Linked DNA regions of Homo sapiens. The protein of the gene in region 7 purifies or fractionates together with the protein of the main gene of each other region. This does not show direct contact. Each region holds a gene or a part of one and is shown on either strand. Other genes may lie near its edges. The genes, in order: MYH8, DDR1, MYH2, MYH1, TNNT3, VKORC1L1 and TSPAN33.

Evidence for each region.
Region 1: the proteins of TSPAN33 (region 7) and MYH8 purify together in Homo sapiens (affinity purification with mass spectrometry; one large-scale study listed by BioGRID and IntAct). This does not show direct contact.
Region 2: the proteins of TSPAN33 (region 7) and DDR1 purify together in Homo sapiens (affinity purification with mass spectrometry; one large-scale study listed by BioGRID and IntAct). This does not show direct contact.
Region 3: the proteins of TSPAN33 (region 7) and MYH2 purify together in Homo sapiens (affinity purification with mass spectrometry; one large-scale study listed by BioGRID and IntAct). This does not show direct contact.
Region 4: the proteins of TSPAN33 (region 7) and MYH1 purify together in Homo sapiens (affinity purification with mass spectrometry; one large-scale study listed by BioGRID and IntAct). This does not show direct contact.
Region 5: the proteins of TSPAN33 (region 7) and TNNT3 purify together in Homo sapiens (affinity purification with mass spectrometry; one large-scale study listed by BioGRID and IntAct). This does not show direct contact.
Region 6: the proteins of TSPAN33 (region 7) and VKORC1L1 purify together in Homo sapiens (affinity purification with mass spectrometry; one large-scale study listed by BioGRID and IntAct). This does not show direct contact.

The regions. Positions count from the first base shown.
Region 1 is NC_000017.11:10,419,151-10,423,133, forward strand, and holds the start of MYH8 (myosin-8), read right to left. Parts: upstream 2,801-3,983; 5' UTR 2,780-2,800; intron 2,557-2,779; 5' UTR 2,513-2,556; intron 1,108-2,512; 5' UTR 1,078-1,107; coding exon 868-1,077; intron 1-867. UniProt on the Homo sapiens protein: Muscle contraction.
Region 2 is NC_000006.12:30,887,519-30,891,018, reverse strand, and holds part of DDR1 (epithelial discoidin domain-containing receptor 1 isoform 2 precursor), read right to left. Parts: intron 2,332-3,500; coding exon of another isoform or gene 2,290-2,331; coding exon 2,205-2,289; intron 2,112-2,204; coding exon 2,009-2,111; intron 1,818-2,008; coding exon 1,589-1,817; intron 137-1,588; exon of another isoform or gene 47-136; coding exon 1-46. UniProt on the Homo sapiens protein: Tyrosine kinase that functions as a cell surface receptor for fibrillar collagen and regulates cell attachment to the extracellular matrix, remodeling of the extracellular matrix, cell migration, differentiation, survival and cell proliferation.
Region 3 is NC_000017.11:10,529,159-10,532,658, reverse strand, and holds part of MYH2 (myosin-2), read left to right. Parts: intron 1-770; coding exon 771-1,026; intron 1,027-2,584; coding exon 2,585-2,827; intron 2,828-2,918; coding exon 2,919-3,095; intron 3,096-3,177; coding exon 3,178-3,323; intron 3,324-3,406; coding exon 3,407-3,497; intron 3,498-3,500. UniProt on the Homo sapiens protein: Myosins are actin-based motor molecules with ATPase activity essential for muscle contraction.
Region 4 is NC_000017.11:10,498,043-10,501,542, forward strand, and holds part of MYH1 (myosin-1), read right to left. Parts: intron 3,458-3,500; coding exon 3,068-3,457; intron 2,711-3,067; coding exon 2,584-2,710; intron 1,051-2,583; coding exon 932-1,050; intron 781-931; coding exon 584-780; intron 1-583. UniProt on the Homo sapiens protein: Required for normal hearing. It plays a role in cochlear amplification of auditory stimuli, likely through the positive regulation of prestin (SLC26A5) activity and outer hair cell (OHC) electromotility.
Region 5 is NC_000011.10:1,918,233-1,922,502, reverse strand, and holds the start of TNNT3 (troponin T, fast skeletal muscle), read right to left. Parts: upstream 2,801-4,270; 5' UTR 2,741-2,800; intron 1,142-2,740; exon of another isoform or gene 884-1,141; intron 1-883. UniProt on the Homo sapiens protein: Troponin T is the tropomyosin-binding subunit of troponin, the thin filament regulatory complex which confers calcium-sensitivity to striated muscle actomyosin ATPase activity.
Region 6 is NC_000007.14:65,953,074-65,956,565, reverse strand, and holds part of VKORC1L1 (vitamin K epoxide reductase complex subunit 1-like protein 1), read right to left. Parts: intron 2,493-3,492; coding exon 2,266-2,492; coding exon of another isoform or gene 2,153-2,265; 3' UTR 1-2,152. UniProt on the Homo sapiens protein: Involved in vitamin K metabolism. Can reduce inactive vitamin K 2,3-epoxide to active vitamin K, and may contribute to vitamin K-mediated protection against oxidative stress.
Region 7 is NC_000007.14:129,158,207-129,161,706, reverse strand, and holds part of TSPAN33 (tetraspanin-33), read right to left. Parts: intron 29-3,500; coding exon 1-28. UniProt on the Homo sapiens protein: Part of TspanC8 subgroup, composed of 6 members that interact with the transmembrane metalloprotease ADAM10.

The DNA.
Region 1 (3,983 bases), on a different chromosome or scaffold from region 7:
TGCTTCAAGTGATTGTCCTGCCTCAGCCTTCTGAGTAGCTGGGATTGCAAGTGCCCATCACCATGCCCAGCTAATTTTTGTATTTTTAGTAGAGACAGGATTTCGCCATGTTGGCCAGGCTGGTCTCGAACTCCTGATCTCAGGTGATCCACCTGCCTCAGCCTCCCAAAGTGCTGGGATTACAGGCGTGAGCCACTGCGCCTGGCTAAGACCAGTTCGTTTTAATGGTTGGAGGTAGGGTTTATGTTTGCCTGTATATTTTGGTACAAAACTATAATCACACATACTTCTCATTATATTATTTAATGTCCTCTTAAAAAAGGCATGAAATATATTCATTTCAGAGTTTAATGTTAAGAAAACCTGTTTCCTATGATGAGCTAGGACACTATCTTTTTAAAAGATTTTTTCCTCCCACATTCTCTTATCCCAGATTTATCAGTTTATATCCTTTTTTTCTTATTTTAGTAGGCTAAATTTTTATTTTTTTCTTTCATTCATTAAGAAACTTCATGTTTTTGGAAGTAATGGGGATATTAATACATTATTTAACTAAGTAAATATTTAACTTCTGATAGGAGGAGCTTGTTTTCATTTCCCTCAAGTTTGGACATTCAGACTAGGAAGTGGGGAATTGAAGGGAAATGGTGAAGGCCATACATAGTGGGGTGAGGTCCTGTGCGAAGTTGGGAAGGGAAGACATGAAGGTACTGCTGTGAATTTCTTTTGCCTTCCACATCTAATGTCTCAACACTGACTAGAAGGGTGTTTGCATTGGCAACAGGCTTGGAGATTCCCAGTAAGTTAGGCTTCAACTTTTGAACCAAGAAATAAAATGGGGAGTATTTTCTCCCTGTTTTCACTTACTGCTCCACCTTCAGTCTTTACGGTTACTTTCCCTCCTTCTTTGCTTTGTATAGTGCTCTTCACATAGGATTCCTTGGGCTCCGCCACAAAGACAGATGTTTTAGCATCAAACGGCTTGTTTTGGGCCTCAATCCGCTCCTTTTCTGATTTTCGAAGGTAGGGAGCAGCTTCGCCAAAAACAGCCATCTCAGCGTCTGAGCTCGCACTCATGGCTGCGATTTATTTAGCAAAGGATTCTGCCTAGGGAGGAGAGAAACGGGAGAGAGAGATATAAAAAGCAGAAGTCACAAATGTGAGTTAGGATTTGAAATGAAAGAAATGTTGAACATAGCCTGTGCTGTAACTATTCCTCCAAACTGGCACTCCCCAGTGTTCTAACATAGTCTAAAGGACAAGTATGGAGTGAGACTGTAATTTGAGATTTCATTTTTAGGACTGTGAATTTCCTTTTCAGATCACATATCTTGATCCTCAGGGATAGGGTACCTACAATTGAATTAGAATGAAACCTCTACAGCTAAAACTATTGATGGATTGTTTTATAGCAACTGTCATTATTTAATTTCCTCTCCTCTTTCTGCATAATGTTTGTCTATGCCATATGCCAGGACAATCATATGGTGAGAAAAGAAAGTTTGTCTTGTTCAAATGAAGGTTCATATTTTCAAAGCTATCAAAAAATCTTTGCCTTTTAAGATGGCCATTTTCTCTCATAAAGCAAATAATTATTTTTAACATCTTTATGTTGATATTTGGTGTTGTATCTCTCAGTGGATTGTTAGAAGAACATAATACATTCTAATACTCTGGATTTTTTGTAATTTGGGTTGTTCCCAACAGACTTAGCATTGCCTTGATTCCAAAATCTTTTTTGACATGAGAGATTTCAGCTGTCAGTTAACAGATCTAACCACAGAGGAATGAGAGCTTCAGCACAAAGGCCCTTCTTCCCACATAAATTCCATGGGTTTCTTTTCTTTCCACCCAGAAAACAGAGAAAAAAGTTTTAAGAGTACATCACATGCATGTAAGCCATTGTCTTCTGATTAATAGATAGGCCTCTGCAATGTGGACATGTTAGATTGGTTGAGTTTTTCCTTTATTTTCAATTAGAAAGTTACTTAGGGAAGGGCAGGATTCCTCTTAAATTAGTCATGGTATTTAACACCCGGTGGATGTAATACTTGCGACCTGTTAAGTAAATAATAATAAGTCTTTCTAACAACAAATAACAAATAATCAAAGGTAGCTAAAATATTTATATTTATATTTCTAGGTAAAAATCTTTCTGGAGTCTTTAAAAATGTCTATAAAATGTCCTAAGTCCTCAATGCTTTGCCATAGAAGAAGACTGGCATGGACTAGTCTATTGCCACTGGACAGTTCTAAGCACAGCTGAGAACTCACTGTTGAAGCTAATTCTGTCCTAAACGGTCTTTGAATCTTGGAACCCAAATGAGGATAGTCTCTGAGAAGAAGACATTTTGAAAAAGTTATTTTCTAGCATTTATAAACACTCACTCGGAAACACTCTTTCCTGATATAACTGCAAAAACATGGAAATGGTGTATAATTCAGGATTGTTCACAGCTTCATTAGACTATATCCCCTCTGTCATCAATAAATTAATAAAGCCAAGTCTTACCTCTGGAGTTCCAGATAAAAATGCAGGTTCAGAAGTGTTCCACTCTGTAAAACAACAAGCTTCTTATTAGTGATGCTCCGAAATTCCAATATTATAGTTACAGAATTGTTATTATAGTTACAGAATTGAAGTTTCCCTACCCCAAAGCTTGGTTCTATGAAGACAAAAGTTAAGATTGAGAGAGCAGTTTAATGCTCACAGATAACTACGAGGTCAGCTCTTTTCCCCACCTGGGGTTTTTCGAGTTCCAAGGCCTTCATCACTTACCTCTGGGTTCTTGGTGGAAATAAGGCACAAGGGGCAGTCCTGCTTATATAGGAACTAATGTGCTGATGCTGCAACTACCTCCTCTTTGTTAGGGCAAGACATTTGGCAACATGAACCCTCAGCATAGTTTGTAGTGACATTTGTCATGTTTGGATATAATTAGAAGTATTCATATCATTTTGTGTATGCAAACCAATCTCCTATAAATAATTTGACAGAGACCGATCTGCCAGCAGAGAATGCTTTCTAGTGTGCTGGGAAGGGAATCTTTGACAGTGCCTGATGGGGCCTCAGAGTAAGTTCTTAAGAGCTATATTCAATTTGGCAAACTCTTTCATGCACGCCTGTGGTAGCCAAATGATCAGATACCCGGGGCACACGGCTGTCAGGGCCTTAAGCACGTTTCCTTATTTGCTACCACGGGAACCCCCCACTGCATTCCCTTGGGCCACTACAGATGCTCACTCTTGAAGTCCAGGCTTAGACAGCAGAGATTCTACCTTGAGTCTCCACCATTGGGCCAGTGCCCACTCATCTAACTTTGAAAAACATTATTAGTAGAAAATAATATGTTTATTACAGAAAAAAATACAGGTAAGTAAAAAAAGTCTCTGTAATCTCTAATGCAGAAATAAGATAGAGGCGTATAAGTGGGATCATATTATAGATGCATATATAGTACATGTGTGCCTTGTAATATGCTTTAATAATTAATATATCATATCACTAATGTAATTTATACCCTATTCTTTAAATAAATTATGATTTTTTTTAATTAAACTCTTTCCTTTTTTTAAGGTCAGATATATTGAGGTATAATTTACATAGAGTCAAATTCACCCTTTTAAAGTGACAGTTTTATGAGGTTTTTTGCTTTTATTTTTAAAAATTTTTAAACTTTATAATAAAATTTACTTCTTTTGTTGTATGATTGTATGAGTTTTTATACACGTATTGATTCATGTAGCCACCACCACAGATAGGATGCAGAACAATTCCAGGCCTATGGGTTTGATAAATATATGCAGGTGTGTAACCTCTTACACTGTAATTACATAAAAATTAAAGCCTTAGAGATTAGGCTAAATTTTCCCTTTGATGAACACTCACAATGCTGGTATCTCCCTTTTCTCCCAAGGTAACTACGGATACCCGTTTAGTTTGTAATATTGCAGACCTTTTCTGTACATTTACATATGTATTT
Region 2 (3,500 bases), on a different chromosome or scaffold from region 7:
GGTCCTTCAGCACCACTCCCTCAGGGTCCTCATTGCCTGAGATCACCTGTGGGCCAGGAAACAGGGGGTGGGTGGGATGGAGTCCAGGTCAGATCTTACTTCCCACCCACCAGCTGCTCCCTGGCCCAGCCCACAGTGGCCACTTAGAGACCCATGAGGGGTGGCACCGAGCACACAGCACTGTGGGGCGCAGCCAGGCATGGGTGAAATGAAGATCTGCAGCTGAGACCTCTGGCTCTGTCGCAGCTCTGATGTTCCATCCTCAGACTTCAGGCTCAGCTGCCCTCTTCTCCTTGCCTGGCTCCATCCATTTGTCTCCAAGCCTATCATCCCATTGTGCCCAGATTCTCCCCAATCCTCACAGCCCTGCACCCCTGCCTCAGCTTCCCCTTCATTTCAGCCCATTCCCTCTGTTCATTCAGCAGAAGTTGGCTGAGTGCCCGCTCTGTGCCAGGCGCGTTCTCAGTGGTGAACGTCACTCCCCACCCTTGTAGGACTGAGATCCCAGCAGGGAAAACAGCTGCGAAGAACAAGAGGCAGGAAGTATGGACAGAGCAGTGAGGTGGGTGGCCAGAAAAGGCTCTCTAAGGAGGTGACACCTGGCAGAGAACTGAATGGAGTGAGGGAGAGCCTGTGGTTATTTAGGGGAGGAGCTTTGCAGGCACAGAGAAAATGTCCAGAAGCTGTGGGAACGAGCCCTGGCTTGTTCCAGCAACAAGAAGAAAGGCAGCGTGGCCAAGGAGGCGCCAAGAAACAAGTGATGCAGGCAGGAGCCAGGTCAGGCTGAGCATCCTGCACCAGCTAGGGACTCAGCTTTTGTTCTGGCAGAGTGGAAAGCCAGCATGGGGGTGTCAGCTAGGTGTGACGTATCTGATTTACATGCTCTAAGGTCCACTGGATGCCGCCCCCCCAGGTGGAGATTTGACTCCAGGCAGAAAAGGGCAGAAGCAGGGAGACGCGTTTGGCATCTACTGCACTCATCTAAGCTGGAGATGGCGGGCAGGTGGCCTAGGGCAGTAGAGGTGGAGTGGTGAGGAGTGACTGGACTCAGGAACACTATGGAGGTAGAACAGACGGGGCTGCTGATGCTTTGGAAGGAGGTGAGAGAAAAAAAGGAATCAAGGATATCATCTTAACTTATAGCCTAGGCAACCAGGCAATGGTGATACCACTTCCTGAGCTGGAGAATGCCAGGGGAGGAGCAGGTTTAGGCTGGGAATGGGAATCAAATTCAGCTTGGGAAGTTAAACGTACGTTTGAGATGCCTATTAGACATCTAGGTGGCTGGCTACAGTGCTTGTAATCCCAGCACTTTGGGAGGCTAAGGTGGGAGGATCACTGAGCCCAGGAGTTCAAGACCAGCCTGGGCAACACAGCAAGACCCCATCTATTAGAAAAAAAAAAAAAGACATCTAAGTGGAGAAATCCAAAAGGTGGCCAGGTTTACAATATTGTTTGGAGCTCAGCTGAGAGGCTTAGTCTGGAGATGATATAAACTGGAGAGTCGTCAGCGTATAGGTGGTGTTTAAAGTACAGCTGGAAGTGAGGAGAGCCAACCTCCTCTGGGTGCTGCCCCTGCCAGTCTCACCTCCTGACCCCAGCGGTCCTTCCAGCCCATCCAGCGGCGACCATCCCGGGAGTAACGCAGCCGGTAGCTCCGGGAGAACTCCTTGCCCAGGCCCCCGGCATGCCGTCCCTGGGTGCCCACCAGAGCCACCAGGTGCAGTCGTTGTAGATCCACCTGCAAGTACTCCTCCTCCTTGGGAAACACCGACCCTGCGGGGCACCAGGCCCCATCCCCGTCACTGCTCTCCAACCTGAGGGTGAAGAGGGGCACAGAGAACATCTGGCCCCAGGTCTGCCTCCATCTCCAGTATTTAAACCCCACTTCATTTGCCCCCTCAGCCTGCAGGGGTTTCACTGGCATGGGCAGAGGGGTTGGAGGGGAAGTAGAGGTCCCAGGAGCTCCTCTCGGGGCAGCTACAAGTGTGCCAGGTGTGCCAAGTACCTGCTGTGGCGGGCGGCAGTGGAATCTGACCAGGAGCTGGAAGCAGAGATGTCACTGTCTGGGATGGTCCGGTCCTGCATGCCCAGGGCATAGCGGCACTTGGCTGAGTAAAAAGCAGGCATGTAACAGGTCAAGGCCCCCAACTCTCTACCTCCCAAGCCCTGGCCCTCAGGGACCCATGATTCAGTCTCCTCACCAGGATCAAAATGTCCCTTCATGTCAGCATCTCCACTTGCCACCAAGAGCAGCAGCAGTAAAGATGACAGGGCCTCTGGTCCCATAGCTCCTGATCCCTCGGGCCTAAGGGGGTGGGGGCAGCATCTCTGCAGGGGATAAAATGGGTGGTGCGTAAGTTAATCAGGGGACTGAGTCATAGCTGACAGCAACAGACAGAATGGGCCGCTTTGGGGATAATAACAGTAAAACAACAACAACAGTCATTGTTTAACAGCATCAGCTATATTTTTAGAATGCTTCCCCTGTGCCAGACACTGGCCTAAACCCTTAAACAGAATCCATAATTTTATCTTCACAGTCACTTCATAAGGTAGATACTATTACTATCCATATTTAACACATGAAGAAACTAGGGCAGAGATCAGTTAAATAACTTCCTAAAGCCCCATTTCTCCAATCAGGAATGGGCAAAATATCCCCATAAACAACGGCTTAGAACAAACAACAAGTGTGCAAAAAATGTTTATAACACATACAACAGGAAAAGGTTTAATAACTACAATAAACTAAGGCCCCTTAGGAACTGACAAGAAAAAATATATAAGTAACCCAATAAAGAAACAGCCAAAGAATGTGAATAGTCATTTCACAGAAAAGCAAAGCCAAATTGCCAACAAACATTTTTTTTAATGGTCAAATTCACCAGCCTCAGGGAAATACCAAGCAGACTGACAAGATATTTTTTTAAGGCTGTAACATATAAAAGTGGTAGAAAGTGATGAAAAGGGAGGCACCATGCTCAATGGCAGAAATGAGTGTTATCTTCTATTTGGAAAGCAATCTAGCAATGTCTATTATAATTAAAAATGCACATCCTCTTCGACCCAGCATTCCCTCGAGAGAGAAGCACCAGGAAGTAAGAACATATGTGCAGGTCTGGGTCTGGTGGCTCATGCCTGTAACCCCAGCACTTTGGGAGGCCGAGATGGGAGGATCACTTGAGGCCAGGAGTTAGAGACCAGCCTGGTGAACATAGTGAGACCCCATCTCTTTAAAAAAAGTGAAAAATAAAAATAAAAAAGAAGATTTCAAAGATGTTTATTATGGTACCTTTTGTAAGACATAAATCTGTAAGATATGTGAATGCCCACAGGGGACAGGCTGGAATTAAAAAAAATAAGGTTTATTGACTACTATGCAGCTATGAAAAGTAACAAAGAGGCAATATATTCCTAACTTTGTGTGATTTCCATGTATATCTGTTGAATATGAAAAGCAAGCAACAGAAGTATAAAAAATATCCCACCTTTTGAAA
Region 3 (3,500 bases), on a different chromosome or scaffold from region 7:
TACATCTACACATATACATATGTGTATGCAGATATATAAATAATTTATATGAAGCAAATTTTATTTTTACCACTTGTAATTATGCTAATATTTTCAACTATATTCCATTTTATTAAAAATAATAAATTTTGGTCATGATCCACGATATATATATATTTGGGTAATTGTCTATATATGGGGTAATTAGCTGTAAAAATCATTTAGATGAAAACAAAAGTGGTATTAGAGAATAGAATACAAAATTCACACAACATTAACATATAAAGCCAGATATTTTCTAAGAAATTCTGAGTTTTTAATATCTCCTGCCCCATATACCCCTAAAGAGCTGTGTTCCCCCTTCACTGCCCTTAGTGGTGTTTTAGTAGCAATGTTTGAGAAGCACTGACATACAGCAAGGCTTCTCAAAGGGTGCTCCTTGGACTTGCAACATCAGCATTTCTTGCAAACTTGTTAAAAGTGCCAATTTTCAGGCTCCACCCTAGATCTTCTGAATCTGAATCTGAATCTACGGAGGTGAGGTTCAGGAGTCAGTATTTTAACAAGCCCTTCAGGTGATTCTTATGCATGCCAAAGTTTGAGAAGCAGTGATGTAGAGAAATGAGTGACCTTAGCAAGACCTTGACCATCATCCCGAAATAGAATTTTTTCATCTGCATGTTTGAAAGCAGAGTAGGAACAAGGTGAAGCAGAACCTCCAACTCTCACTGCCAAGGTTTCATCCCATTGCATCAACCACACAATACTAATTTGCATCAATTAAATTTCAGGGAGGCCATCTTCTGTATCCAGTACAATATCAGATCCTTCATGAATGTCAAGCACTGGCCCTGGATGAAACTCTTCTTCAAGATCAAGCCTCTGTTGAAGAGTGCAGAAACTGAGAAGGAGATGGCCACCATGAAGGAAGAATTTCAGAAAATTAAAGACGAACTTGCCAAGTCAGAGGCAAAAAGGAAGGAACTGGAAGAAAAGATGGTGACGCTGTTGAAAGAAAAAAATGACTTGCAGCTCCAAGTTCAGGCTGTGAGTTGGAATATCACCCTTGGTATCACTAACCAGGATGCAGGTGCTAGAACTTTGGCCATTGTGGGCCATGAGTTGGGTAATTGCAAGGGAGACACTCATTGGAAGGAAAAGGTTAAAACACTCCAATGGCACGAAAAGGTCCAAACATTCCTCCATTGCCCAATAACCCCCAACAAACCAGCACCAGGGCAGTGAGGTAGAAATATCCCTCATTTTCCATTGTACACAATTTCATCAAACCACAAGATTTTTGACTTATTTTCTCTTTAAATACAGTCCATAAAAATGATTTTAATATGACACAATCCCAAATAAAATATGAAGGGGAGGATAGCATGGAGAGAGTAATATTTTTCGGAAACTTCCTTGAACTTCTAGATGTCCACGGGTCTTAAATTATAATAGGAACAGCTGACATATGACAGCACTCTCATCAAATTTTACTGAATTATCGTGTGATATTGATCTCAAAAACTCAGACTCCCTCTTTCTAATCTGTCTCCACAGTCAGTGTCCCATCATGTCACACCCACATTGCTGCATCAGCACCAAAGTTGCTCAGCCTACTTCCCAATTGTCTCTTCTTCCATCCAGCCTGCTCACTGCCCTCTCCTGAACCAATCATTTTAGAACTGCTTCCATCAACTTCAGACTATAATTTATAAGACTATGTTTTATTTGGAGTGAATTGAATTGGTCTACTTATCATAAAGTCATATTTTTTTCTGTTAAGACTGGTCTCTCTGTCAACGTTGAGCAGTATAATAACTCCTTCTAGATTACAGAAGGAAAAAGCCCTCCAAATCTACCCTGTATTCTCTTCTGTTGTCCCCAGAGATTTATGCAGAATCTGTACTAAACCACTGTATTCGTTACACAGTTATACATAGCACCCTGCATTCCTTAATGTAGTCAAAGACTGATATGGAGGATTACTGATGAGTATATATTCCAGTGTCTCCTTCATTTCCCGCCTGCCCTGTCCCCCTTAATTGGAAACAGCAGGTTGCCAGGAATTTCTTGATTACTTTATGTTTCAACTTGAATTTAGTACATCATAATCAGGAGCATCCTCCAGTACTACAAAAAAAAAAAATCAGTAGCAGCTGTATCTTGAATTTGTCCTGCTAGAATGCTTCCCCACAACCCTCCTGCTCCTCTCCACAATAAGTTGATTTCTGCAAAAGCAAATCCTACCCCTCTCTCAAGGCCCAAATCAAACAGCAATTCTTTCATGAAACCATCTCTGATCCAACTTCTCTGATCTGTTATGTCACTAATTGCTTTCTACATTAATGGTAGCTTTTGGGAAATAGGTTTTCTAATCTACTGTAGAATACATTCTTTTAGGGGAACAAAATGACAACTGGTACATTTTGGCTTACCCACATGTGGAAAATGTACACAGTAGGGTGGTTCATGAAACAAAAATTTGTGAAGGAGTAAACAAATGAATATAGGAAATTCAAAAGATCAAATGCAGAAACATACACTCTTATCCATTGTGAAGTATTTCATTCTTTCTTCCCAATTTTGATCTTGTTTCCAACTTAAGGAAGCCGAAGGCTTGGCTGATGCAGAGGAAAGGTGTGACCAGCTAATCAAAACCAAAATCCAGCTAGAAGCCAAAATCAAAGAGGTGACTGAGAGAGCTGAGGATGAGGAAGAGATCAATGCTGAGCTGACAGCCAAGAAGAGGAAACTGGAGGATGAATGTTCAGAACTCAAGAAAGACATTGATGACCTTGAGCTGACACTGGCCAAGGTTGAGAAGGAGAAACATGCCACAGAAAACAAGGTATCAATCATATTCTACAGTACTGTATAGAGGTTCTGCCACCCAACAAAGGTGCTTTATAGCAACTAAACTGCTTTCTTCACCTTTGTAGGTGAAAAACCTCACAGAAGAGATGGCAGGTCTGGATGAAACCATTGCTAAGCTGACCAAGGAGAAGAAGGCTCTCCAGGAGGCCCACCAGCAGACCCTGGATGACCTGCAGGCAGAGGAGGACAAAGTCAACACCCTGACCAAAGCTAAAATCAAACTTGAACAACAAGTGGATGATGTAAGTCTGGTATCATCAAGGACATTCTTTTCTTCTAAAGGAAGATAAGCATTCCTTCTGATTCAACATAATTTATATTTAGCTTGAAGGGTCCTTGGAGCAAGAAAAGAAACTTCGCATGGACCTAGAAAGGGCTAAGAGGAAACTTGAGGGTGACTTGAAGTTGGCCCAAGAATCCATAATGGACATTGAAAATGAGAAACAGCAACTTGATGAAAAGCTCAAAAAGTAAGTAAGAAAGAATTGCTTATGGATTTGCTTCCAACATTAGATACGGACTAAATTGTTGTCCTTTGCTACTTTTCTAAAAGGAAAGAGTTTGAAATCAGCAATCTGCAAAGCAAGATTGAAGATGAACAGGCACTTGGCATTCAATTGCAGAAGAAAATTAAAGAATTGCAAGTA
Region 4 (3,500 bases), on a different chromosome or scaffold from region 7:
GTCCAGTTCTATATTAACTCATTCCCATTATCCTACCACCAAATACCAAAAACAACCCCAGTTTTGGTATTGCCATACTTCATAGAGTGGCTTTAAGGCCATCCATGACAAGCATGAGCTAACACTTTACCCTTCCAGGTAGCTGGTTTATTCCTCTTCTGTAGAATATTAATATCTACCTTGAATTACTGGTTTGTTTTTCTGTGTCTCCACATAATTTTAATCCCCAGAGGGAGAGTCTGTACTGTACTAATCTTTGTATTCTTGTAGGCTGTCCAACATATTAAGGGCTCAAATGTTGGATAAATTGAATTCAAATGAAATATACTTGATTTTGTCTGTCTAATTGTATCCCTTATTTGTGCTAGTTTTTAATTAATCCATTAATAATAAAGAAGCTTTCCCACATCAATATACATTTTGCATCGAGAACTCCTCTCAGAATCTCTTCTAAGGCATCTACCAAAACATTAATTCCAACAATATGGCTGTATATGGTCCCAGAATGTTTTTTCCCTAGTTTTTCATATGTTTTGGGAGCAAGGAAACTTATAGTTCCATTTTAACTAAGTCTGGAACATACTTGGCCTCCTCCAGCTCCTCTGTGCGCTGGATGGCATCTGTCTCATATTTGGTCCTCCACTGGGCAACCTCACTGTTGGCCTTGGACATTGCTCTCTGTAGCTCGGCCTTGGCTTCCTGCTCCTCCTCATACTGTTCCCGCAGCAGGTCACAGTCATGGCGGGAGGACTGCAGGGCATGTGCCAGGGCACTCTTGGCCTGAGAACATAGAGATTGATGACTTAATTTTATATATTTAAAGTGATGTTTGATTCCTGATCTCCTATAGGCCACCAGAAGAAAGTCTGTAAAAGTAAGCGAAAAACAAATAACAAGAACAATAATGACAAGAATGACAAGTGGAGCTTACCTTTATCTCCTCTTCAAGTTGCCTTTTCAGTTCCTCAATCTGTTGTGTAAAGGCTTGTTTGCCCCTCGAGAGCTGTGAAACTAGTGTGTCCTTTTCATCTAGCTGGCGTGAATATTCACCTGTAAAAGACCAAGTCCAGAAAACTCAACCTTACTTTGGAAATTAAAACTCTAAAATAAAAACTTGAGCAGGGAAAGGGAGCCAAGTTTGAAACTTGATGGAGGGCATGGGTGACAACAAACCACCAACATCCGCTTTAACCTTGATAAGCAGATCCATGTAAAAATTAGAAGCATGGAGAAATTTGAGGCAGATTACATGCTTGTGAACAGCACAAAAGATTTCAAGAGATATTTACGATTATTTGATCGTAGTCAAAATTGATGAAGAAACATGAAAAAAATGTAAATCAAGCCAACAAAATATTCTAGTACTTTTTATTTTATGTAAGGCAGTAGTGTTGTCTAATTTGCCTTCCATTGAAAGTTGGTTGAAACAAAGGATTTATACTGTGGAAAATAAGAGACTTTGGGCAATGTCTTCTGTAAGTAGAAATGATAGTCAAGAGAAATTCTGGAAAGATTTTTATATTAAGAAATGATTAAGTGGTCTCCCATCCCCAGAATGAATTGGTTTCTGGATAAGTACTTTCCAAACTAAATGGCATTTACACATGTCTTCAATTTTTTAAGCACCATAATGCAGAAAATGCACTACATTATGTTAGAAAGATAGTAAAACTTTTCCACACCATTTTTATACTAGTTATCTTGAACTTTATCTCTGGCATTTAATAAGAATTATAATAAATATTTATTCTGAACTTTGTTATAGAAAGAATAGTATTTGAATACCAAAAGTGTAGAGTGATTTTCCAACACTTTAACCTGCCTATTACTTTAATAGCCTAAATTACCCATAAAACAATTTCCATTTTGTTACCTCTACCTGGGGAGATACAACTCTGGTAGAAAGTTGGACACGTCAGTAGGAGGGGGAATAAATGCAGAGACTTTCCAATTTCTCTAATCAAAAATCTACAAATCTTACTTGAATGCTTCTCAGCTGGGTTGTGGTCTTGAATATTTCCCTACTTAACCGTGTTAGTTACCAGTAATTGGCAAGACTTCAGGAAAAAGACTGGAGTAAACATTCTTGGACAAGTTGCTTCATCACTACCATAATCCACTGTCTTTAAAATGGGGATAGTATTACACAGACTAATGAGGAAAATAAAGTAACACATAGCTTGCGAAAGCATTTTGAAAAGTGAAAAGAGGTACTGTAAGGATGCACTTTGTTTTTGATAACTTTTTGATTAAAGCCAAGTCTCCCTTAAAGTCTTCAAAAATAGAAGGGCCTGATTCTATTTATCTCTCTCTCTCTCTTTATATATATATATATATGTATGTATGGATATATATACAAATATATATATGGATATATATGTTTCATATATATACACATATATTTCTCTCGTATATATATGAAAGAAAGCAACCTCATGCCAGTGGTCAATAATGTGTTCATATTAGTGGGGATCTCCCAGGGAGGTAGTATATGACCTCAAGTAAATAAATGCAGAGTTTTTCAGTGGATTACACATGCAGGGTGAATTTGTCATTCAAGGTCAGTACTGGTACATGGCCCACCTGATTCTGTTTGCAGGCGCGCTCTCTGTGCTGTGAGGTCATTGATCAGCCGCTGCTGCTCCTCTTCCTTGGTCTTAATTTCACTCAGTTGATCTTCTAGAGCGCGGCACATCTTTTCAAGGTTTCCCTGCATTCAAAAAGTGGTAGAAGGCATCTCAAGTAAGTAGTTGGACCAAAGAAAGTTTCAGTAATCTAAACATTCCATATGAGCTGCAGTACTCATTTATTTTGAGAAGAAACTATCTTTACAAACAAAACCAGCAAAGGTCTTAGATAGTGAATGGAAAGACTAATAAGATACATAGTCCAAGCATACAGCCACTGAATTACTTGTTAATCTAACTACTTTACTAAGTTGTACTATACGTGATATGAGAAAAAGGGTGCCTGATTTAGTTCATGAGACGTTTTTGAGATACAAATCATATTTGTGCTAAAGGGAAAAACAAAAAACCAAATAATCAATGTGAAGTGTTGATTGTACCTTGGCTTTGGAGACAGTCTCCATGTTACTAGCAAGGTCATCGATCTCCATCTTCATCTCACTCTTCTCCTTCTCCAGCTTCTGCTTCACTCGCTGCAGGTTGTCAATCTGCTCCCCAAGCTCGGCCACACTATCTGCATGCTTCTTCCTCAGGGTGGCCGCCGTGGCTTCATGCTGTAGGGTGGCCTCCTCCAGGTCCCTGCGCATTTTCTGGAACTCAGCCTCCCGCTTCTTGTTCATCTCAATCTGGGCTGAGGTGGCCCCACCGGCTTCTTCCAGCCTCTCGCTGATCTCCTCCAGCTCCCGGGAGAGATCAGAGCGCTGCTTCTCTGCTTTGGCCCGGGAGGCCCGCTCTGCCTCGATTTCCTCCTCCAGCTCCTCAATGCGGGCCTGGGAATGGTGAAAAATATTAATACGAACTCAACTTCTTGGT
Region 5 (4,270 bases), on a different chromosome or scaffold from region 7:
TGCAGGCCGTGTGCCGTCCAGCCCGCTCTAGACACTGGAAAGGTCCCGCTGATGGAGCTGAAACCTGTCTCTGGGTGTTCTCTGCCCAGTGGGTGTAGGTGGGGTCTCCCTGGGAGCCCCTGGATGACCGAGACTGGCTCCCCAAGATGAGTAATCTGCTCACCCTACCATTCCCCATGAGAACCCCTCTTCCCTATTTGAGCCCAAAGCTCCCTTCTGTGCCTGTTTTCCTATGGGGTGCCCAGAGTGTGTCCCACCACACCCCTCTGAGGACCCCTCCTCCAAGATCACAGAGCAGGGAAGCTGTTCCTTCTTGTTACCCCTGTACCCTGAAAACATTGAGGCTGAGCCCCAGAGCACGTTGGGTTGGGTCTGGGCCGCTTCCCGTGCACCCCCCCGGGCCGGGCTCTGTACAAGGCATACTTGGACTGCAGGAGCCCACAGAACAGCCCCCCCATTTCCCTCCCTGTGGCCGCTTTCCCTGGTCCCGGGGATGCTCTGGATCTGTCCCTGTCTAGGGGAAGCTCCATGCCCAGGACTGGCTGCCCTGTCCATGTGCGGTGGTGGCGCCAGGCCAGCATGCTGGGGACCGTCTCTCTGTGAGCTGGCCACCGTGCACACTGGGCGGCCAGGCCTGGGGAGGCTCTGAGCAGCTGCACCGGCATGTTGGCCAGGGTTTTAGAAAACAAAGTTCATTACAACACAGTACAGATTACTCGAAGACAATAGCTACGGTCCCCCCTGGGAGTGTTGTATAAGGAAAACACACGTTCATCAGCTAAAAATGCATCTACGTTGCACTGCTGAGGTGGGAACCGTTTTCCAAACCCTCTGTCAAGAATGTTAATTTTCCCAGAGCAACTTAAGCTCCATGCAAAATTACCCAGCAGATAGCTGTCTTCCAGGCAACGGGGGTAGCTTTTTCCTATCCCAGAATCTCTTCCTGAGACTCTGCTGCCCCTCAGGTTAAGCCTCTTGTAACTGCCACGGCTGGGCCAGGCTCTCCTCAGTCCTCAGCCCCACGAGCCAGTGTTGTCCAGGCCCCCGGTGTGACCCAGTCCCAGGCTGCCCACCAGCCCCTCGTGCTGTCCTCCCAGCTGGTTCAGGCCCCAAACGCCACAGACTCCTCTAGGGCCATCCTCTGTAAGGAGGAGGAGGGTCAGTGAAGGGAGGGAGCGGAGCCTGGCCCCGCCCTGCTGTGCCCAGCCCGACGCTGGCGGGGCAGACACCTGTCGGCTGCCACAAGATGGGGGCAGCGTGGCCCTCGCCTGGGGTGGGTTATTTATAAGGAGCCAGTGGCAGCTGAGGTGTCCAGAAATAGGCAAGACGTTTCTGCCCAGAAACCCAAGACGTGGGTGAGGCGGGTGTGACAGCCCAGCCCTCCTTGGCCCACAGCTGCCCCCTCACCCTCGGGCACCCAGGCCCTCCCCAGCTCCTCATATTTCCCTCCTGTCCCCCCAGGCCAGAGTCACATGGGTGCCCCAACACCCTCAGGCAGGGTGACCTCCAGGCCCCCCGACGTGCGCTGGAAAGGCCCACTCTCCAAGTGGGGAAACTGAGGCACCTGGTTTTCTGCTGAGCGCCTGGAAGCAACACAAGGCTGTTCTGTTCCCCCCAGTATGGCCTGTGTCATTGCCTCTGTTGCGGGGAGGGGCTGGTGGCAGGGGTGTGCTGGGGGCAGGGGTGTGCTGGGGGCAGGGGATGGCATTTCAACAGCTGAGACGCAAAGCAGGTGTCCAGTTAGTGCCTGCCTTGGAGGGGCTGCGTGAAAATAACCTATGCGGTCAGTTTCTTCGGGCACGTATGCATCACCTTTCCCTCCTTGGGAGGTGACGGGGCCAGGGCAGGGTGGGGAGGCAAAAGCCGCTGCCCCTTGCTTGCTGTGGCCCTGACCATGCCCCCAGACCTGTTCTCCACCCAGCCAACCTTTGCTTTGCCCCATGTCCCTCCGTGGACTTCAGGAGGGGCAGCCAAGGCCTGATCAGACGGCACAAGTCAGGGGGACCGTGTCCAGGGCAGGGAGGGTGGGTGGGGGCTCTTACGAGCGCCAGCTTCTCCAGCCTCCAGCCAGGGGGACGCGATGAAGCCCAGCCCCTCACTCTTGCCCCGTCCTGCCCCAGTCCAGCCCCTGTCCACTTCTGTCCTGCACCTCCAGACGCTGGCCCCCAAGGCTGCGTGGGCTTTAGACGCCCCCACCCCAACACACTCGGGCTGGCCATACAGGAGCCCCTGCCCTCCTGTCCTCGTTTTCATCTCTACAAAATGGCGGTGTTGGAGGCCCAGGTGCGAGAGCTGCATGGCAAGGCCAGGACGGGCCTGGGCAAATGTCTGCATGGCGACCACAAGCTGGCAACCTAAGCCCTGGCAGCACCCCTGCACAGCCTCTTCCCTGCCGCTCACAGCCCGCACCTCTCTGCCTCCTGCCCTCAGGCCACTCCCTAGCACTGAGCTTCCCTGAGCCCCGACTTGCCCCCTCCTGGCCTCCCACACTCTGCCTTCTTCTGCATCCTCCCGGTGCTGAGACCATCACACCACCATGTCCGCATCCCAGACTCTCCGGACGCTGGAGCAGCCACCTGGGGGCTCCGAGCCATGATGCTTCGAGATGCTCGGCACCACACGGACCTGGGACCTCAGCGCCCCAGGACCCCAGAGTGTCCCTGGAACGAGGGGCTGTCCACCCGCACGCAGGAGGCCCCGTCGGCCCCAGTCCTGGGTGGCCGCTCCTGCCTATACCCACCTGCGGGTCGAGTGTGAGAAGGGCTGGAGCTCCCTGTGGACAGCACCGGCTGCAGGCACTGGCGCCCGGCTCACACCCTCGTGTTATAGTGACATTTGATCTTCCTAGGAGCCCATTGGCCAGTGACTGGGTGGCCGGGGTGTGTGCGGAGTCTTGCTGGGGGGGGCTATGCCCGTGCAGGCCCCTTACCAAGTATAGGAATGGCCAGAGGAGGAGGCTGAAGGAGGCCAGGATGCAGAGGACGTGCTTGGAGAAGGAGGCAAGGTCCTCCCTCCGCCTCCAGGAGGTGTCAGCTGCTATTTTTACTCCCAGCAGCGGGTACATTCTGGATGGGCTGAGGAGGGAGGAGGAAGGTGTTGGGTGGCCCCGGGGCACCAAGCCGAGGCTCTCTTTGGGCCAAACTAGTGTGGGGGTCCCCAGAGCCAGGCTGCCGGGTTTCCCACCCCCCCGCCCCTTCTCTCTGAGATGTTCTGTGGGAGTAAACATTTGTCCAGGAAAAGGGTCCGCACAGCCGGGGTCCCCTCCCGCCGCCCGGCCCAATGCCCCAGGCCCTTCGCTGTCTCCCCCGGGGAGGAAGCAGCCTGAGGCCTCGGAGACCCCCCATGGAACTGAGGCCAGGCCCCCACCCTATCTGAGACCCTCTTAGAGGCCAGCTCTGCTTTCCTGGCTAGACACCGTTGGGGCCTACACAATAAGCGGGCGAGGGACATGGCCAGGCTGGCTGCAGTCCGAGTCTGCCATACCTCCCCCCGGGGCTGCTGCCATTGCAGGGGGCTACACATGGAGTTTGCTGGGTAAGGGTCTGGGTCCTCCCTCTAGGCCCTTTCTAACCCTGGGGCCCCACCCTGGGCACTCGCAGTGGCCGTTACCATCTGTGCCAGCATCTCCCACAGGCTCATTGTGGCGTGTGGAGACTGGTTTTCTTTCCTCAGGACTCCAGGTGGCACCGTCCGACTAGCAGACATCCTTCCTGGCCTCTGATGGCCTGTATGCTGGCCAGTGAGGCCACCAGATTGGATAACCCTGCCTCTTGGATCAGGGAAACTGAGGCACCAGGTGGGGGAGAGCAGTCTGGCACCCTGACCCACCCCCTCACTCCCCTCAGACCCCACAGGCTGAGCGTGGGCGGTGGTGTCTGCGGAACTCTTCGGTTCAGGCACAGATTGGTTCCTTCTTGGCCAGCGCCCAGGACAGGGGTGAGTCCCGAGAGGCACAGATGAGGTCCCTGTCCTCCCCAGGCTTAGAGTCAGGGACAACAGGATAACCCGGCAGGGGCTCACAGTGCCCTGGGGCCGGGTCGGGGGCCTTCCGGAAGGCTGTGGTTGGCACCTCATTCCACCCCTCCATGGAAGAGCGAGGCCGCAGAGCCCAGGGACAGGCAAGGTGTGCCTGGGGTCACACGACAAGGCGGGCTGGCCCCAGGCTGCCATTTCAAAGGACAGGGCCGGTCCCCTGCCTGCCTCCCGCTGAGTGCCCGGCACTGGGAAGGCTCTTGGAGCTGGGGTTGCTGGGAACGTCGCCGTCCTCCTG
Region 6 (3,492 bases), about 63 Mb from region 7:
GAATGTGGCAAAAGTTTTTATACAACTGAAACAGTGGTTTCCCCGAGGCTTAGAAAAGCAAAGGAAAAACTGGAAGGGTCTGGCTGACCATTTTGCCATGTTTTCTCAGGTAAGAGTTGAAGACATTTGCAAGAATGCAACATCAAGACAAGCTTTAACTATACTCTGTTGATTGATACAAAATAGGATGAAAAACCATTGGATATTGGGACACGAGGAACTTGTTTAGCACAACCGATGTCATGTATACCACAGTTTTAACCATTAGGCCATTTCCACTGTAGCTTAGAAAAAAGAACCAGAGGACTGCCTTGGTAGAGCTGGATGCGCTGCTACAAGATGGCCTCACTGTACAGCCCTCAAACGTGAGGACTTCTTTCTCCATAGACACCAGATGGCCAATCAGTACTTTCTAGAGTTCTTTAACTACTTCAGAATGCAAGAACAGTACATACATACTCCAACAGCCATTGAAAGATTCACATTCATGGGAAAACACAAGTCTTGATGAAATCTTGACTTAAGCTCTCTTTTAAGAAACTGGTTGAAACTGGTGAAAAGTTCATTATGATTTGGACTTGATACCTGCCTCGGGCCAGAAGACCTACGTTGCATCAATTCTGAGTCAGTTGGAAGCTACGGAATTGTTGCTGACTCTACACATTTGAGTTTACAGAGCAGAGCCCGTCCCCTCCCTTCAAAGAGAAGGCAAATAAAGCACTCAAGAGATACTGGTCTCATTGACTATTTTCAACATAAAATGATTAATCAGGTTGGAAGCAAAAACATTACTGCTGCTTCTCAACCAGAGGATTAAGTGATCACACAGGACCCTTCTGCAGAGTGCAGGTTTTCTACCTGACGGTGAAGAAAGGAGGGAAGGACACTTCTTCTGCCCAAGGTCAACACACAAAATATTTGGTTTGAGATTTAAGACAGAAGGCACTTTTAACATTCTGATATCAGATGTTAACCATACAAACATCCTGTCACAATTTCATTTGGGTGTACTCAAATCCCCTTACAAAAGTCTTCTTACTGCATGTGTGTCATTATGAGAGCAGTGGCGACATGAGCAGATTTAGCCTTGAGATGTGTCTACCTGTTGCTATTCTCCCGATGAAGCAAACTGGGCAGCATGTCAGCCCTGAAGGTTACAAATCCAGTATTTGACTGCAAAACAATTAAATTAGACATCTGAGTGGTTAGTGCAGAAAGAAACAATTAGCAAGAACACTGGCTCCCACTCCGGAGCGATGGGGCTTGGACTGGTCTTTTCCATCATAATACTCTTTGCTTGACTGGCACCAACGTTAAGGAAAAATATCTGCATGAAAATTCAACTAGTGGAAGAAACTTTACCTAAAAATGCCATGTTTATATTTCCAGCTTTTCTCCAAAGAAAAATACCCATTTTCCCATCCTTAGTGTCTGAAGGCCTTGGACTTGAAGGTCTGGCCACATGACTCATTCTGTAAGGTTAACAACTGGCCCAGTTTTATGACTGAACACAAACTGGACTTGAACGTTCCAATTCAATTTTTTCCTTTCAGAAGAGGGAGATGAAAGGGAACCGACCACCCTATTATTATTTTTTTTGCCCTATTATTTGCTGCAACCACGGCTGCCAGTACTTTTCACAAGATGCTGTGTATAGGCTATTTTCACTATCTCCTCAGTCAACGCTGAGCTGACAGTTCTTCAGTGCTACACTCCAACTAAACTGTACAGTAAGTTCTGCAGAAATGGATCTAATATTTCTACCTTTATTTACAAATATCACAAATGGATTCTAGTTGAATCTACATGTTTAAATCCATCGGCTAAAAACATATTACATATTGTAAACATGGCAATATTTAATACAGTATCTATTCTAGAATATTTTCATGTCATGATCACATTTGTTATACCTGAAATTGAATTTATACACATTAAAGAATTACTAGCAATGGTTGCTCACTTTACAATTGAGGGCAGGGGGCTAGGGCTACATTTTATCATTTCAGAAACACTTCAAAGTAAAGTTAAAGCTTGTCTTTGATTGGCTCGGCGTATCCTTTTTGTATCCATATTTAAAATGAAGACTGACACAGAAAATAGCGAGGGCCCCTTCTAATTTACCGGATTTTTAAAAATCAGTTTGAGATTCTTAGGGAAAGTGTCTGTTGTGAATAATAATAATAATAATAATAATAAAAACCTGCTGCAAAATAAACTGAATGGAAAGGGGCTTGAGACTGTTAGGGTGGAGTCTGTCGGGCGTCAGTCCTGCTTGGGTTGCAGCTGCCGCTTCCAGGCCTCGTTCAAGTAAACTAGTCGTTTGTAGTTGATAATGAGAAGAAGGAAGTTCAGCACGTACGTGACGATGCAGATGATGCAGAACTCCTTCAGCACAAAGTACAGAATGTAGGCCAGGTACAGGGACCCCACGACCGACATGATGGAGGACGTCATGAGGATCAAAGCCGCCACAGCGCTTGCTGTCATGCCTGTAAGAGAAGAGACGCAGGCTCAGTCAGGCCTTGGTGCTGGAGAGAGGCTTTCTGAGTGACAAGGAATAACACTGTGTGACTTGCTGCAGTGTTTGAATACTGATCTTCCTGCCAACTCTGAAAATTGAGAACAGAAATACTGCTCTGTTTTGTTAAAATTATACAGGTTGACTCTGCAGTTGATAATGCCAGGTTTTGGGGTTTTTGAGATGGAGTCTCACTCTACCGCCCAGGCTGGAGTGCAGTGGCACAATCTCAACTCATGCAACCTCTACCTCCTGAGTTTAAGCAATTCTCCTGCCTCAGCCTCCCAAGTAGCCAGGATTACAGGCACGTGCCACCACGCCTGGCTGATTTTTTGTTGGCCAGGCTGGTCTCCAACTCCTAACCTCAGGTGATCCTCCTGCCTCAGCCTCCCAAAGTGCCGGGATTACAGGCATAAGCCACCATACCCAGCCAAATGCCAGTTTTATAGCTGTGATGTTTTTGATTTCTCAATCTTTCAGGTAAAACATTACTAATTTCACAAACTAGCCTAGTTGAAAATATGCACACAAAGAAAACATGCAATCTCACAATCACATTAAGCAATGAAGCTGACTTGTAACATCAACAGCCCCAAGACACCAAATGAATAACGGGACATGAGGACCACAACCTTTTTCTTCCGAGCTGCACACATTTGGTGAGAACCTTCTCTGGACTTTCACTACATCCTGCCCATCTGTGGAAAGTAAAATTTGCTTTTCCATGTTTAGATCAAATTGATTAAAAATCCACAATGAGAGGTGACTACACCAACAAGCTGCTGAAGAGAGAAAAAGAAACTCTTGATAAACATTTCAGGAAGGGCTCACCCTGGTGGATAAGGGAAACCACATTTTGCCCGTTGGCTGCATGTGGGTCAAACCTGATCAAGAAAAATGGTGGACATGTGTGCTAAATCCAGGCTCTCAATACAAAAAGGCACCTGAAGCCACGCACAGTGGCTCATGCC
Region 7 (3,500 bases):
CCACAGCCACCATCACCATGGAAATCACCTGTGGAGACAGGAAAAGAGCCAGACCCTGAGATTCTGGAAACCAGAGAGCCCTGAATGCCATGAGAAACCTAGGAGAGCAGGAGAAGGACTGCTTTCCTGGGACCCAAAGGTGAGCATCTTTCACCTCCCCAGTGATTCTGCTGATAGAATCTGTCAGGGCTTTACCTCCATGAGACACTTTTACCCACATCATATTTTTCATTATTCATTCAGTGCTCGTAACACAATTAGGTTGTGAGGCAGACATTATGCCTATTTTACGGATGAGGAAATTAAGGCAATCCAAGGTTAATACTGAAGAGTGATTAAGAATATGGGCTTCAGGCTGGGCATTTTGGGAGGCCAAGGCAGGAGAATCAACTTGAGGTCAGGAGTTTGAGACCAGCCTGGGTAACATAGTGAGAGCTTGTCTCTAGACACACACACAAAATAATAATTAGCTGGGTGCAGTGGTGTGCACCTGTAGTCCCAGCTACTCAGCAGGCTGAGGCAGGAGGATGGTTTGAGCCCAGGAGTGCAAGGCTGCAGTGAGCCATGACTGTGCCATGGCACTGAAGCCTGGGTGCCAGAGTGAGGCCCCGTCTCTAATAAATTGAAGTTAAAATTAAAAAGGACACAGTCTTCAGAGCGAGTCAAACTTGGGTACACATAGGGCAAATTTCTGAGCCTCAGTTTCTGTATCTGAAGATGGGAAGTAAGAACAAACAACTGACAAGATTACTGTAAGAACCAACTAAAATAATGCATGGAAATAATTTAACACAATGCCTGACAATAAATATTATCTATCATTATTAATAGTTAACTTGCCCAGGGTCACACATAAATGGAAAAGTTTTGAATTCGAATCTATCTGCATCAAAGGACAGGTTTTATACCTAAAGCAGGCCTGGGCGGTTGCATACTCCCAGCTCTCTAACCCTCTTAGAGGTCAATATCATGTCAAGTACAAAAAGAAAGTGCACTCCAATGTGAAGGACTGTGTGTGAGTGCATGTATGTAAGCACTGGAACTGCCTTGGCAAAGGAACCTTTATCTTCACAAACTCTGATTCCAGTGTGGAGGAATAGAGAGGAGTTTAGATCTTTCAAATTTCCTGGCTTCTCCCTGAGAGAACAAACCCATCAGAGACTAATAGGAGACCCCAAAGAGGCCTTATCTACCCCCTAGCCCCCAGGCCTCCAGGGGTGCAGGAGAGCCCCAGTGCCTACTTCCCTTGGCCACCCTTTTTTTGTGCCCAGTCTCCAGGCTGGTGCTAAGCAGCAGCTGGCTGTTGCCATGGCAACAGATGGGGCCAAGCTCTGGCAGGAGAGAGTTCTCAGCAGCAGGGTCTTGACCAACTCAGTGGGGAAGGAGATGGCTGGCTAGACACCACTGTCCTGCAAGACGGAAAGCAGCTGGAAAGAGCCACCATGGGGCTTTGGTGGAAGAAGGGAGCTAGGCCCCCAGAACAGGTAATAGGGTCAGATGAGTCCCTCATTTTTCCCTGTAGGCCTCCTTGTTGAAGGTCCTCTGCCATCTGGCAGGGGAGGGCAGGTGCATTCAGCAGTAAATGGCAAACCTTTATCTAAAACCACGTCTTCCAGAACTCTTCTCTGCCTGTATATACAGCCCCCTCTTTTTTGCGGGGTGAGGGAGGAGGGTCTTGTGCTATTGCTTAAGCTGGAGTGCAGTGGCATGATAATAGCTCATTTCAGCCTTGACCTCCTGGGCTCAATTGATCCTCCCACCCTAGCCTCCCAAAGTGCTGGGATTACAGGTGTGAGTCACCACACTCAGCTGGCCCCGGTCTCTTCCCACCTCACATCATTTGACCATGCCTCTAACTCAGGGCCCAAAGTGTTATTTGCTGGCCTTCATACTCTTTGTCCAGGAGGGTGGGAGCTGCTAGCAGAGCTGCAGGTGCCAGCTGGCGCCTTGTCCCACAGCACTGCCAGGCTCACGGAGCATGGGGGAGGCAGGGAAACTACATGACAGAGATGCCAGTCATTCCCCAGGCCTGGTGGCCAGTCCTCCACCAGAGTCAGTGAGCATCTCTGTCTGCCCTTTAAAACCCACTGCAGCCAATTACAGTTCTGAGTGTCATTTTACTGAACTATTGAAAAATGTGTATCTGCTCTTGATTTCTGTTGCTTCCAGGCTCTCATTGTTTTTCATGTCAAATTTTCACCAGGGTGTATAATTTTCCACAAAGATGGTATCTGATTAAATCGTAGCACAGCTAAAACAAGAAAGGCCAAACAAGCACTACTCACAATAGCAAAGGCATGGAATCAACCTAAATGCCCACCAACAGTACGGGAAAAAGAAAATGTGGGGTCAGGCCAAACACGGTGGCTCACGCCTATAATCCCAGCACTTAGGCCAAAGCGGGTGGATCACGAGGTCAGGAGTTTGGGACCAGCCTGGCCAACATGGTGAAACCCCATCTCTACTAAAAATACAAAAATTAGCTGGACATGGTGGCACACACTTGTAGTCCCAGCTACTTGGGAGGCTGAGGCAGGAGAATCGCTTGAACCTGGGAGGCGGAGGTTGCAGTGAGCCGAGATCATGCCACTGCACTCCAGCCTGGGCAACAGAGTGAGACTTCATCTCTAAAAAAAAAGAAAGAAAAAGAAAATGTGGGGCCGGGTGCAGTGGCTCATGCCTGTAATCCCAGCACTTTGGGAGGCTGAGGCAGGTGGATCATGAGGTCAAGAGATTGAGACCATCCTGGCCAACATGGTGAAACCCCATCTCTACTAAAAATACAAAAATTAGCTGGGCATGGTGGCACATGCCTGTAGTCCCAGCTACTTAGGAGGCTGAGGCAGAAGAATCACTTGAACCCGGGAGGCGGAGGTTGCAGTGAGCTGAGAACGTGCCACTGCACTCCAGCCTAGCGACAGAGCAAGACTCTATATCAAAAGAAAAAAAAGAAAAGAAAATGTGGTACATATATACCATGGAATACTACGCAGCCATAAAAACGAATGAAATCATGTCCTTTGCAGCAACATGGATACAGCTGGAGGCCATTATCCTAAGCAGATTAATCCAGGAACAGAAAACCAAACTCCATGTGTTCTCACTTGTAAGTGGGAACTAAACATTGAGTACACATGGCCACATGTACTTTAGAGTGAAGGGTAGGAGGAAGGAGAGGACGGAAAACTACTTATGCTTATTACCTGGGTTATGAAATATCACCCCATGACACATAATTTACCTATATAACAAACCTGCACATGTACCTCTGAACCTAAAATAAAAGTTGAAAAAATGGGCAAAGTAAAGAGATGCCACATATCATAGAGTAAGTTAACTGTATTTATGGGCCTGTAATGACAGCAGTTGCTCTGTCTCTATCTATGGTGGAGAGAATAATGTCCCCTCAAAGATGTCCACGTCTTAATTGCTGGAACCTGTGATTGTGTTACTTTTCATGGCCAAAGGAACTTTGCAAATGTGATTAAGAATTTTGAGCT